Regions from separate parts of the Homo sapiens genome. Here region 2 is linked to region 1. Evidence: fine-mapped expression QTL. A gene starts in region 1. The other region holds a variant in brackets. All regions are shown on one strand. Distances are between the middles of the regions. Region 1 holds the start of SUN2 (Sad1 and UNC84 domain containing 2). Region 2 overlaps GTPBP1 (GTP binding protein 1).

Region 1 (5,371 bases):
CACTTCGTGACTCTGGAGCCTCTTCCAGGGCGCTTTCCACAGGCTTCCCAATTCTCAGTTTCCTTGTCTTTATCCTTCATGGTGCTGAGCTCCGCACAAGCCAGAATTGGGTCTTCCTCGACCTCTGACAAGTAGCAGAGACTCTGGTGCTTCTGGTCACTGCCTGCACGCCCGGTGGTCCAGCCACCCCACCTGCCTTCTCCCTAGAGACTTCTCCCAGTCTCGCTCTAGCTGTGTCCCTTTGCTGACATGTGCTCGTTCATCGAGGGCCCCAACGAACCTTGATGGAAAACCTTTCCCATGTAGACCCCACCTATGTTCTTTTTTTTTTTTTTTTTTTTTTTGAGATGGAGTCTCGCGCTGCCTCCCAGGCTGAAGTGCAGTGGTGCAATCTTGGCTCACTGCAACCTCTACCTCCCAGGTTCATGCGATTCTCCTGCCTCAGCCTCCCAAGTAGCTGGGATTACAGGTGTGCGCCACCGGGACTGGCTAATTTTTGTATTTTTAATAGAGACGGGGTTTCGCCATGTTGGCCAGGCTGGTCTCGAACTCCTGACCTCAGGTGATCTGTCCACCTCGGCTTCCCAAAGTGCTGGGATTACAGGCATGAGCCACCACGCTCAGCCAAAAGGATTTTTCTTTTCTTTTCTTTTAATAATAGAGACAGGGTTTCACCAAGTTGGCCAGGCTCCCACCTACGTCCTGATGGCGCTTGCACTGTCTGTCCCCACGGTGCACACTGTGCTGCCACATCTTGGTAAGATGATGATAAAATGGTAAGTGTCTGCTGGGACCGGGCTCCTTGTATACCTCATTTATATTATTAGAAGCAAGGTAGGTATCATTACTCCCATCTACAAGGGAAGAACCTGGACACTGAGGCAATGGGTAACTTGTCCACAGTCCCCAGCCTGTAAGTGCCAAAGCCAGGGTTTGGGCTCAGCTCTGACAGGCTGTAGGGCCTGGGTCTTTCTACTCAGGCATAAAGTTTTCCAGTTGTTTCAGGAATGTATTGAAGATTCTAGTTGTGTGTCCTCAGCTAGAATCTTTTTTAGCCTCACACATGCGCAAAACAAGGCTGTATACAAACTTGTTACACAACAAATATTTGTTAGCAAACTAACAAAATAGGGAGGAGGAGGGCAGCATGAATTACAGTCAGTTCCGGTCACCATGTGGGGCAGAAATCAAGGCTCTGGAACTGATAATGAGGACAAAGGAAGCCAAAGTGCAAAGATCTGGCAAGAGGTAGCATTCTGTGACATGAGGAAGATTAATGAACCACTCAGGTCTAGACACCCGAATTCAAAGTCCCCGACTGCCAACATGGGGAGTCTCAACGTTAGTGCCTCTGCTGGCCCGTACAACAAAGTCACTTGGGAATTCCTAGCACTTGCTTGTGACTTTTGATCACTTCTAATATTCCTGGTTGATACTTAAATGACCAGTTCTCTGGGTTGTGTGGTGAGTATAGAAGTCCACTTCCCAACCCAGGCTGCAGAAACCCGAAGGTCTGGTTAGTCCAGCTAGAAAGTCCTCCTCTGAAAAACAAGCAGCCTCATGTCCTGGCCTTGTTGGCATCTTCCCAGGTCAGACGCCCATCTGGCATCCCCTCTACTTTTAGCTGGTGTTGGAAAAGGGACCGATTGGTAGTAGGAAAAGCAGGAAGTTGGCCTGGGTCCTTGTCTCTATTCCTGTCCTTATAAGGTAATCTCCCCTCCCCCCTCCCTGCCCCGCCCGTACGGTCCCTACCTGAAGGCTCCAGCTGCCCACACAGGGACTCCTCTTAGCCTCTGTCCTGCTGAAGGAGGTGACACCTTTGCCCAGGGCAGAAACAAGGCAACATGTTTATACCATACCCAAGCTGCCGCTGGGAAGAACTAAATATTCTGATGGAGGTTGAGCGGGGAGTGCTGAAAACTGTCAGCACCCGCCTCCGCCCTCCCAGAACTCCCAGAGATGCCTCTCAGTCTTTCCTGCGGCATCCTGGCATCACAAAACAGTTTACCATTGAGTCTGGGTTTCACAAGATGAAAAAGGTCGAGGCCCCATTCTCCAAAACAAGAAGTGAGCCTCTGGGAGCTGAAATCTACTACTGCGAATCATAATAGACACCACCCCCGCCCCACCTCCTCCCTAACAATCAGTTAGGAAACGCTCATCGGAAAGCATCCTTCCCCACTTCTCAGCTGGGCGACTTCCTTTCTCAATTCCGCCCTTCCCCATCACAAACATCTCCATCCATCTTCAGACTTAAACCAGATCTGGGGCATCTTCCTCGTGACATTTCCACTCCCTGGGCACAGCCAGGCCACACGCCCTTGTGGGACCTGCCAAACGCCCGGTGCTAACTCCCTCTGCCCTCATTCCCACAGGCCAAACCTGCAGAAATTGTCACCAAAGGCGCGCCTCCTGGCTCTCTAAGTCACACCGCGCCCCCCATTGCTTTGTTTTGTTTTGTTTTAGAACTGAACAAAACGGGCCTTCCTCTGAGGCCCTGAGTTCTGACAGGCAGAGGCTGGGAACTGCCTGTCCCTGGAAACGGCCTGTCTGGCACAAAACCCGTAGGCGCTGCCCGGGGCCGGGTTGGGGCAGTCGGCCTTTGCCCTCCTCCTCCCGGGAGGCTGCCCGGGAAGTCCCGCCCGCAGACACCGCCCTCCCGGCTGACCAGTGGCGCGGCAGGCGGGGCGGGGGCCAGGAGGTGAGTCAGGGCGCGGGCCGCGGACCCGGGTGGAGGCTGGATCCGGCCCAGCACGTCCCGGAGAGGAGGAAGCAGGCCTGGCGGCGCGGCCCCGCCCGAGTGGCCCGACGGTGACCCGGGGTCAGGCCGGGCCGCGGCCCCCCAACCCTCTCCTGAGCTCGCCCGCACTCACCTGCTGCCGCGGCGGCTTCTAGCCCGGCCGGGGGCGTCCGAGGCCAGGCCGCCGCCGGGGCGCGCCCCCTTTCCGCGTGGGGATCCCGCGGGCGGCGCTCCGCTCAGGGCGACACAGCGGCCGGGCCCGGGGCGCGCGGGCACGCGAAGAGCGGCGACGCGGGACAAGGCGGGCGGGCGGACAATGCGGCCGGCGGAGGCCCGCGCTGCGCGAGTGGGGCCGGGCGGCGCGCGTGTGGCCGACTCTGTATGTGTGCGCCTGTCAGTCAACGCTGACAGGCCGCAGCCCATTGGTCAGGCCCCGCCGGCCGTCACCGCCCACCGCCGCCACCCATTGGCCGGTTTGAACACAAAGCCCCGGCTCGCCCCGCCCTCGCGTGGGCCCCGCTGCCCTGCGCGCTCAGCCTAGGAGTCCGCGCGTGGGAGGCGCTGGGCGGGCGGGGACCCCGGGCTGCGGGAGGACGCGACGGGAGCCTGTGCTGGGGCTCGGGCTCAGCAGGGCACTGGACTCCCGATCTGGCGGCTCAGAACACCTGAGACAGCTCTGAGCGCTCCCACGCGCGCCTGCAGCCTGGTTCACCAGGCCGGCGTCCGAGGGGAGGGTGGGAGCCCTGGGAGCGGCAGCGCGCGGGTGGCCCTTGGTGCACTCTCGGTGAGGCTGTCGAGGGCTTGCTCAACACCCGGCACCAGTGCCGTTGTCCTCTTAGCCGGCCATTTCTACACCCATTTTTCAGACAAGGAAACAGGTTGCTAATTTGGGGATTCCAGACATGCTGGGAGGCCCTGCCTCTTCCCAAGCTTTACCCAGAGCACCCAAGTTTCACGACAGCTCTTCTATTTTTTGTTTGTTTTAAACAGATTTTCTATTTTATTTAAATAGAGACGAGATCTCACTATGTTTGCCTAGGCTGGTCACGAACTCCTGAGCTCCAGTGATTCTCCCGCCTCGGCTTCCCAAAGTACTAGGATTACAGGTATGAGCCACCGCGCCCGGCCAGCTCTTCTGTTTTAAGGACGGTGCTTGCTGCACTTGAGCTGTGGGAAGGCAGGGCTGGCCACTCATTCTTCTACCTTACTCAGACTTGGAACGAGTGCTCAGCGTTTGAGTAAAATGCTGCCTGACTCCGGGGGTCCTGTTCCTTGGCTCCCCATCCGCCAACTGTACAGATAGAGCAGGTGCACAGCTTGGGATGAATCTCTTTCTGTGCCAGCCCTTCTAAGGGCAGATGAACAGTCGTTATTTTACTTTTAAAGTACCAAGAGGAAACGAGACAAGAATGACAAAATCACCGAGGCAGGAACAGGAAGGCTGTGGGGTCGGAGGATTGAGGAAAGGCAAAACCCTCATGCTAAAGCGGCTTCAGCCCAACTCCAGACAAGAACAGTCCCCTTTCCTGGGCCTCCATTGCCTGCTCTGGAAAGAGAAGAGTCTCCTGCTCTTCCACCCTCCTGGAGACCACGGTGCTGGCCATTATCACTCCTAGGTTTAGACTGCAAGCTCTTTGAGGACATGGACAAGCTCTCCAGAGCCTGGTACCGAGCCTGGCTCTGGTCTGAGTGTCTGCTGGATGGAGCAATGAAAGGAGAATTCAAATCAGACGTAGGGGCAGCATCCAGGTAGGGGAAGGGCCTCTCTGACTCCTCATCTCTGGGATGCGCAACTCCAGAATTCTGTCCTAACCACTTCTATGGAGTTGCCACATCCTACCTCCTCCATTGCACAGCCTGCTTCCCCCTCTCCGGGGGTCCTGGCAGACAGGGGGGTCTGGCCTTGCTGGGGTCGGGGGGGAGTCCAGGTCCCCTCCCAGGATGTGCTGAGTGGATATGTGAGGCTCATGCCCACAGGCTGACTGAAGGCAGGCCCCTCTTAAACTCTGCATCCTCTGGGGGCTGGGAGCAGGCAGAATAATGGTCGCTACAGGAATTCGGTACTAATGCTTGGAATCTGTGACTGTTATCTACATGCAAAGACTTTGCAGATGTGACTAAAGATTTTGAAATGAGATTATCCTAGATTATCAGGGTGGGCCCTAAGTGTAACACAAGTAACCCTTTAAGAGAAAGATAGGGGCTGGGCACTGTGGCACACGCCTGTAATCCCAGCACTTTGAGAGGCTGAGGCAGGTGGATTGCTTGAGCTCAGGAGTTTGAGACCAGCCTGGCCAAATTAGTGAGACCCCCCCCCCCCACCACCCATCTCTAAAAAAGAAAAACAAAAAAAGAAAATAATTAGCTGGGCATGGTGGTGTGTACCTGTAATCCCAGCTACTCAGGAGGCTGAGGTGGGAGGATAGCTTGAGCCTGGGAAGTCAAGGCCACAGTGAGCCAAGATCAAGCCACCACACTCCAGCCTGGGTGACAGAGCAAGACTCTGTTTCAAAACAAACAAAAAACCAAAGAGAGGCAGAGAAGACGAGCAGAGGGCAATGTGACCATGGAGGAAGAGATTGGAGTGATGAAGCCACAAGCCAAGGAATCAGAATAATAATAAGTGTCCTG
Region 2 (5,371 bases), 33 kb before region 1:
TATTTAGTCTGTATTTATATTATTTCAGATGTTTCCCAAATATCTTTCAGCTGCTTTTTTTAAGCCATGAATCAGTCACCAGTTATCCCCCACTGCCTTTTATTTTCTTTCTTTCTTTTTTTTTTTTTTTTTGAGACGGAGTCTCGCTCTGTCGCCCAGGCTGGAGTGCAGTGGCGCGATCTCAGCTCACTGCAAGCTCTGCCTCCCGGGTTCATGCCATTCTTCTGCCTCAGCCTCCCAAGTAGCTGGGACTACAGGCGCCCGCCACGATGCCCAGCTAATTTTTTGTATTTTTAGTAGAGACAGGGTTTCACCATGTTAGCCAGGATGGTCTCGAGCTCCTGACCTCATGATCTGCCCGCCTCGGCCTCCCAAAGTGCTGGGATTACAGGTGTGAGCCACCGCGCCTGGCCTTTATTTTCTTTGAGATGGAGTCTCACTCTTGCCCAGGCTGGAGTGCAATGGCGCAATCTTGGCTCACTGCAACCTCCGCCTCCTTGGTTCAAGCGATTCTCCTGCCTCAGCCTCCTGAGTAGCTGGGATTACAGGCAACTGCCACCACATGCAGCTAATTTTTTTTTTTTTTGTATTTTTAGTAGAGAAGGGGTTTTCACCATGTTGGCCAAGCTGGTCTCGAATTCCTGACCTCAGGTGATTCACCCACCTTGGCCTCCCAAAGTGCTGGGATTATGGGCATGAGCCACCATGCATAGCTGAACACTCACCTCTTTTTATGATAGCATTCTATATGCAACTTACTTTTTTTTTCCCCTTAAAAGCATATTTTGGAGATTAGTCCATATCAGTAGATAAAAATTTCTTCTTTTGTACAGCACATTTCATACACGTGCCCTGATTTATGTAACCAGTCCTTACGGTGATATTTGGAAACATTTATTGTTACTGGAAGGATAGTAATAGTAATAACAGGTGCAATTGCTTAAACACCTAGTTCCTGCTAGTTGTGTGCTGGACACTTCATGTGTGTTGTGACATTTAAACATCAAGTGACCCTCTGAAGTGGATATTGTTATCTCCCCATTTTACAGATGGGGAAACTGAGGGCCAGTGATGTTAAGTTGAATCCACTTTTTGTTGTTGTTGTTTATGAGACACAGTCTCGCTCTGTCACCCAGGCTAGAGTGCAGTAGCTCGATCATGGCTCACTGCAGCCACAACCTCCCAGGCTCAAGTGATCCTCCCACCTCAGCCTCCCAAGTAGCTGAGACTACAGCGTATCCTGCCACACCCAGTCAATTTTTCTTTTTTTTGTAGGGTGGGGGAAACAGAGTTTCGCTCTTGTTGCCCAGGCTGGAGTGCAATGGCACGATCTCGGCTCACCACAACCTCCACCTCCCAGATTCAAGCGATTTTCCTGCCTCAGCCTCCTGAGTAGCTGGGATTACAGGCATGTGCCACCACGCCTGGCTAATTTTGTATTTTAGTAGAGACAGGGTTTCTCCATGTTGTTCAGGCTGGTCGCGAACTCCCGACCTCAGGTGATCCGCCTGCCTTGACCTCGCAAAGTGCTGGGGTTACAGGAGTGAGCCACCGTGCCCAGCCTTAATTTTTGTATTTTTTTGTAGAGACGGAGGTCTTACCAGGTTGTCCTGCCTGGTCTCAAACTCCTGGCCTCAAGTGATCTGCCTTCCTTGGCCTCCCAAAGTGCTGGGGTTACAGGCATGAGCCACTGCTCCTGACTTGGATTCATTTTGATGGCTCAGGACAGTTGTTTCCCTGACTGGGTTTATCTTTTTTATTGTTTGCAAGTCTCCTCCGATTTTGACGCCCCACATCATCGAGTCAGGGGTTAACGTGATTTTTGCCCAGCCCAGCTTTCATCCACATCTGCTTTTGAGCCCCTGTGTCCACCCAGCAGCAATCTCTTTCTCTCTCGTCCTGACACTTCCTTTCTGTGTTGGGGCAGGTGGGCAGCAATGCTGGCATCGTGGGGATGACCAAAGAACACCTGGGCTTGGCACTGGCACTCAATGTACCTGTCTTTGTGGTAGTCACCAAGATTGACATGTGTCCTGCCAACATCCTGCAAGGTAAGTGAAG[C/T]CTCCAGCTAGCAGCAGCCCCTCTGATTGGGGCTGTCACCTGCTGTGCCTTCAGGTGGTCTGCTACCACGGCTTTAGCCCAGAAACTTCTTTTCTTTTTTATTTTTATTTTTTTATTTTACAATATGTTTATTTTTATTATGTGCTCTACATTGAACACTTCAGCAAAGAAAATAATTATAATAATTTCAAAATGCAATCCCTGGATCCAATAACTATCCTTTATAATCCGTTACACTGGTCAGTATCTAGAAATATATGTAGACAAAGTTAGCTAATGAATAAAATAAGTAAAATGACTAGGTAAACTATAAATTTCAAGCATGAGGGATCATGCATGATCAGTTAAGTCACTCTGCCACTTTTTAAAATAATATTCACATTTGCTTCAATCACATAAACATTCATTGCAGGAGTTAAATTTGACTGCTGATAACAATTGAAAGCTGTGATCTTTGTTAGCTTAAAAGAAAATTCAGCTTAATACAAAGACATTCAAGATGAAAATTTCAGGACCCTTGATCAGAAGCTTTCAATGTGTGTTGCTCCACTTTGTTGTAGGCAAGCTTCAAGTAAGGCTAAGACAGAAGAGTGTTTCTACTGAAGATGTGATCTAAGAATTGCCTTCTACAGAGGCGAATTATATTCTGTAGAAACTAGCTAGCCACCAAGATGTTACCAATAAAGGATTCCTTATACTAGCAACTAACCATGTTTAAAAGGCCTTAGCCATTTAGAGTAATATTTATGAGTACAAGCATAATTGGTTCCTTGCCTTCTACAGATAATCATCTATAAAATGATAAAAGCAGGCTTCAACTGTGTTTCTTCTCTGGGGTGAGAAGGTGCAGATACACATGGGTGATCTACTGATTTACCTTCTGAAAGTACTCTTTGGAAGCAGCTGGATTTGGCTTGATTGTAGGAGAATCCAGTGTCCAGTTTGCTGGGCAGACTTCTCCATGGGTTTCTACATACTGGAACGCCTTCACCAAGTGGAGGGTTTCTTCCACGCTTCGGCCCACTGGGAGGTCATTGACGCTCAAGTGCTTGATGACTCCATTGGGGTCAGTTATGAAGAGACCTCTTAGTGCAAGACCAGAACCTTCTAACAGCACACCGTAGTCTCAGGAAGTTTGCTCAAATCTGACAAGAGTGGGATGTTCATGTGGTCCAAACCACCATTATTTCTTGGTGTATTTATCCAGGCAAGATGACTAAAGTGGGAATCCACTGAGACCACAACTTCACAGTTCACATCATGAAATTCCTTAGCTTTGTCACTAAAAGCAACAGTTTCTGTAGGACCACGAAGGTGAAATCCAAAGGATAGAAGAAAAGCACCAAATTATTTCCCCTTAAAGTCATCAAGGCTTAGGTCTTTGAACTCTCCATTGACAATGGCTGTACCCTTAAAATAGGGTGCATGCTGGGCGACAGCAGGTGCATGGTATGAGGAGCTGGTGCTAAAGAATTTTGCTTGACTGGAACCAGACCATAATATGTTTGTCAAGCTCGTTCTTCCAGAAGCAGCAAGCTTGAGGGCTGCAGTGGCAGAAATGCCCCAAGGAATGGCACTCACATGTCGGGCAGCCGATGCTCAGAGTAGCCTTCCCACAGCAGCTACCATCTTCAGTGCACGCGGGCGAAACTTCCTTTGTCTTGTACTTAGGTCTTGGCCTGAATTTCCATCAGCCCAGAATCTTCTGCTACTTCCTCCCCTATTTAGTTCTTGGTCTGAACACAGCCTAGAATTATCCTCTTCCTTGTTCCTTCTGGTTCCAAATGCAGAAATCTTGAGATCCTGAATCTGGCACCTCTTTTCAGGTGACCCCAGGCAGAAGGAGTTGGGCTCTACCAGCTAAGCTGGATATATACGGGGAAGTTTGGACAGAGGGTCTGATTACCTTTTGCCACCAAAGCTTTGACACAGGGTTGCAGGACTAAGCCTTCATGCCTTTCTCCCTCACTGCTAAAGATTGTAGAAAAGTATCCCTTTGGGAAGCCTCATAATAAGGGTCTCTGTAGACTTCTAAATGTCTAAGAGATCCTTTTTGTTGGATGAGATTTTTTTCCAGGAAGTAGTGCATTCTGAGAACTGAAGTGTGAAGTGAATTGTTTTTCTTGGGGACCCTCAAGTCACATGCTTACAGGAGGCAGGTCGTCTAGACACAAGAGAAATCTGCCAGGTTTCAGACGCAGAACCCTAGAAAAGAGGCCCCATCTGTGCTTTTCTTACTCTAGCAGCACCCAAAGTTTTGATCCTCCTTTTTGCTTCTCCAGGCATTGTGGCATTTAACACTGGTCCATCTATCTGTCTGTCTCCTGCTTGCATCAGTAATGAGTGGACCCATCTTGCTCTTAAAGCCTGGCCAAAGAGAAGGCTGTGTCCCCCTAATTCTGTTCCATTGCACCCTTTAAGAAACCCTGAAGCTGTTACAGCGCCTGCTGAAGTCACCAGGCTGCCGGAAGATCCCCGTGCTGGTGCAGAGCAAAGATGATGTGATTGTCACAGCCTCCAACTTCAGCTCTGAAAGGTAACGCGTGGGGAGCGCACACTTCAGACAGGCACCCTTGCAGGCAGGACCACAGTGAGTGATGGGCCTGGAATGGCTGTCAGTTTGGGCATAAGGTCTCATGAAAACACCACATCAACACCTCTCCCTATTCAGAGATCGGAGGAAATAGAAGCTTCCAATCTTAGCGCAGGGTCTCCCAAGCCAGCATTGTTGCCCAGGGGTAATATCACGTAACCCAGATTGTGAGGTGCTGGCATTCCTGGGGTTGGCATCCCGGCTGAGACTTCAGTGTCCTTATCTGTGAAATGGGAATAACATTCCCTTCCCTGTAGGGCTCCCGTGAATGTTGGAAATGAAGTATGTAGAGCACTTAATGCCCTGCCTGGCTGATGGATGGTAAATACACAGCCATTTTTGTAACTCAGTTTTTTATACTGTTGTTCCTCAAAAGCTCACTAATCAGATCAGTTTTGGCATTTACTCATTAATGTATTCTTTCATTCCATAAATATTTATTGGATGTTTGTTCTGCGAGACTCTTCATCTAGATGTTGAGGATTCAGAGTTGAATTGAACACAATCCTTGTCCTCAAGGTGTTCAGCTCCTTGGTGAGAGATGCTCTCTCGATAATGGTGAACTCTACTAACTCTGCCTGTTTGCCCAGAGCTTGGTCTATAGCGCCAGGCCCAGAGCAGCCTGGCTTTTTGCCTATGCCTCTGCCCTGATGTGATCTTCAGTACCATCAGTTAGCCTGCAGAGGGGGCACATTTCAGACAGCCCCATTTGAGCTT

What was found. PIP is the estimated chance that this variant, and not a neighbour inherited with it, causes the effect. A credible set is the group of variants that fine-mapping cannot tell apart.
Region 2: its variant is the best candidate, but not a certain one, in a credible set for the expression of SUN2 in whole blood (TOPMed, PIP 0.69).

The regions. Positions count from the first base shown.
Region 1 is chr22:38,752,890-38,758,260 of GRCh38, forward strand. It overlaps SUN2 (Sad1 and UNC84 domain containing 2), which reads right to left and starts at 3,109. Exons shown (of 18, transcript NM_015374.3): 1 at 2,874-3,109. RefSeq lists enhancers at 1,923-1,992, 4,251-4,390 and silencers at 2,483-2,832, 2,943-3,492.
Region 2 is chr22:38,719,815-38,725,185 of GRCh38, forward strand. It overlaps GTPBP1 (GTP binding protein 1), which reads left to right. Exons shown (of 12, transcript NM_004286.5): 5 at 1,928-2,051; 6 at 4,483-4,597. It also overlaps the pseudogene PRDX3P1. Among named protein-coding and RNA genes, the nearest start is that of GTPBP1, 17 kb to the left of the region's middle. The variant C/T (reference allele first, on the strand shown) is at 2,062.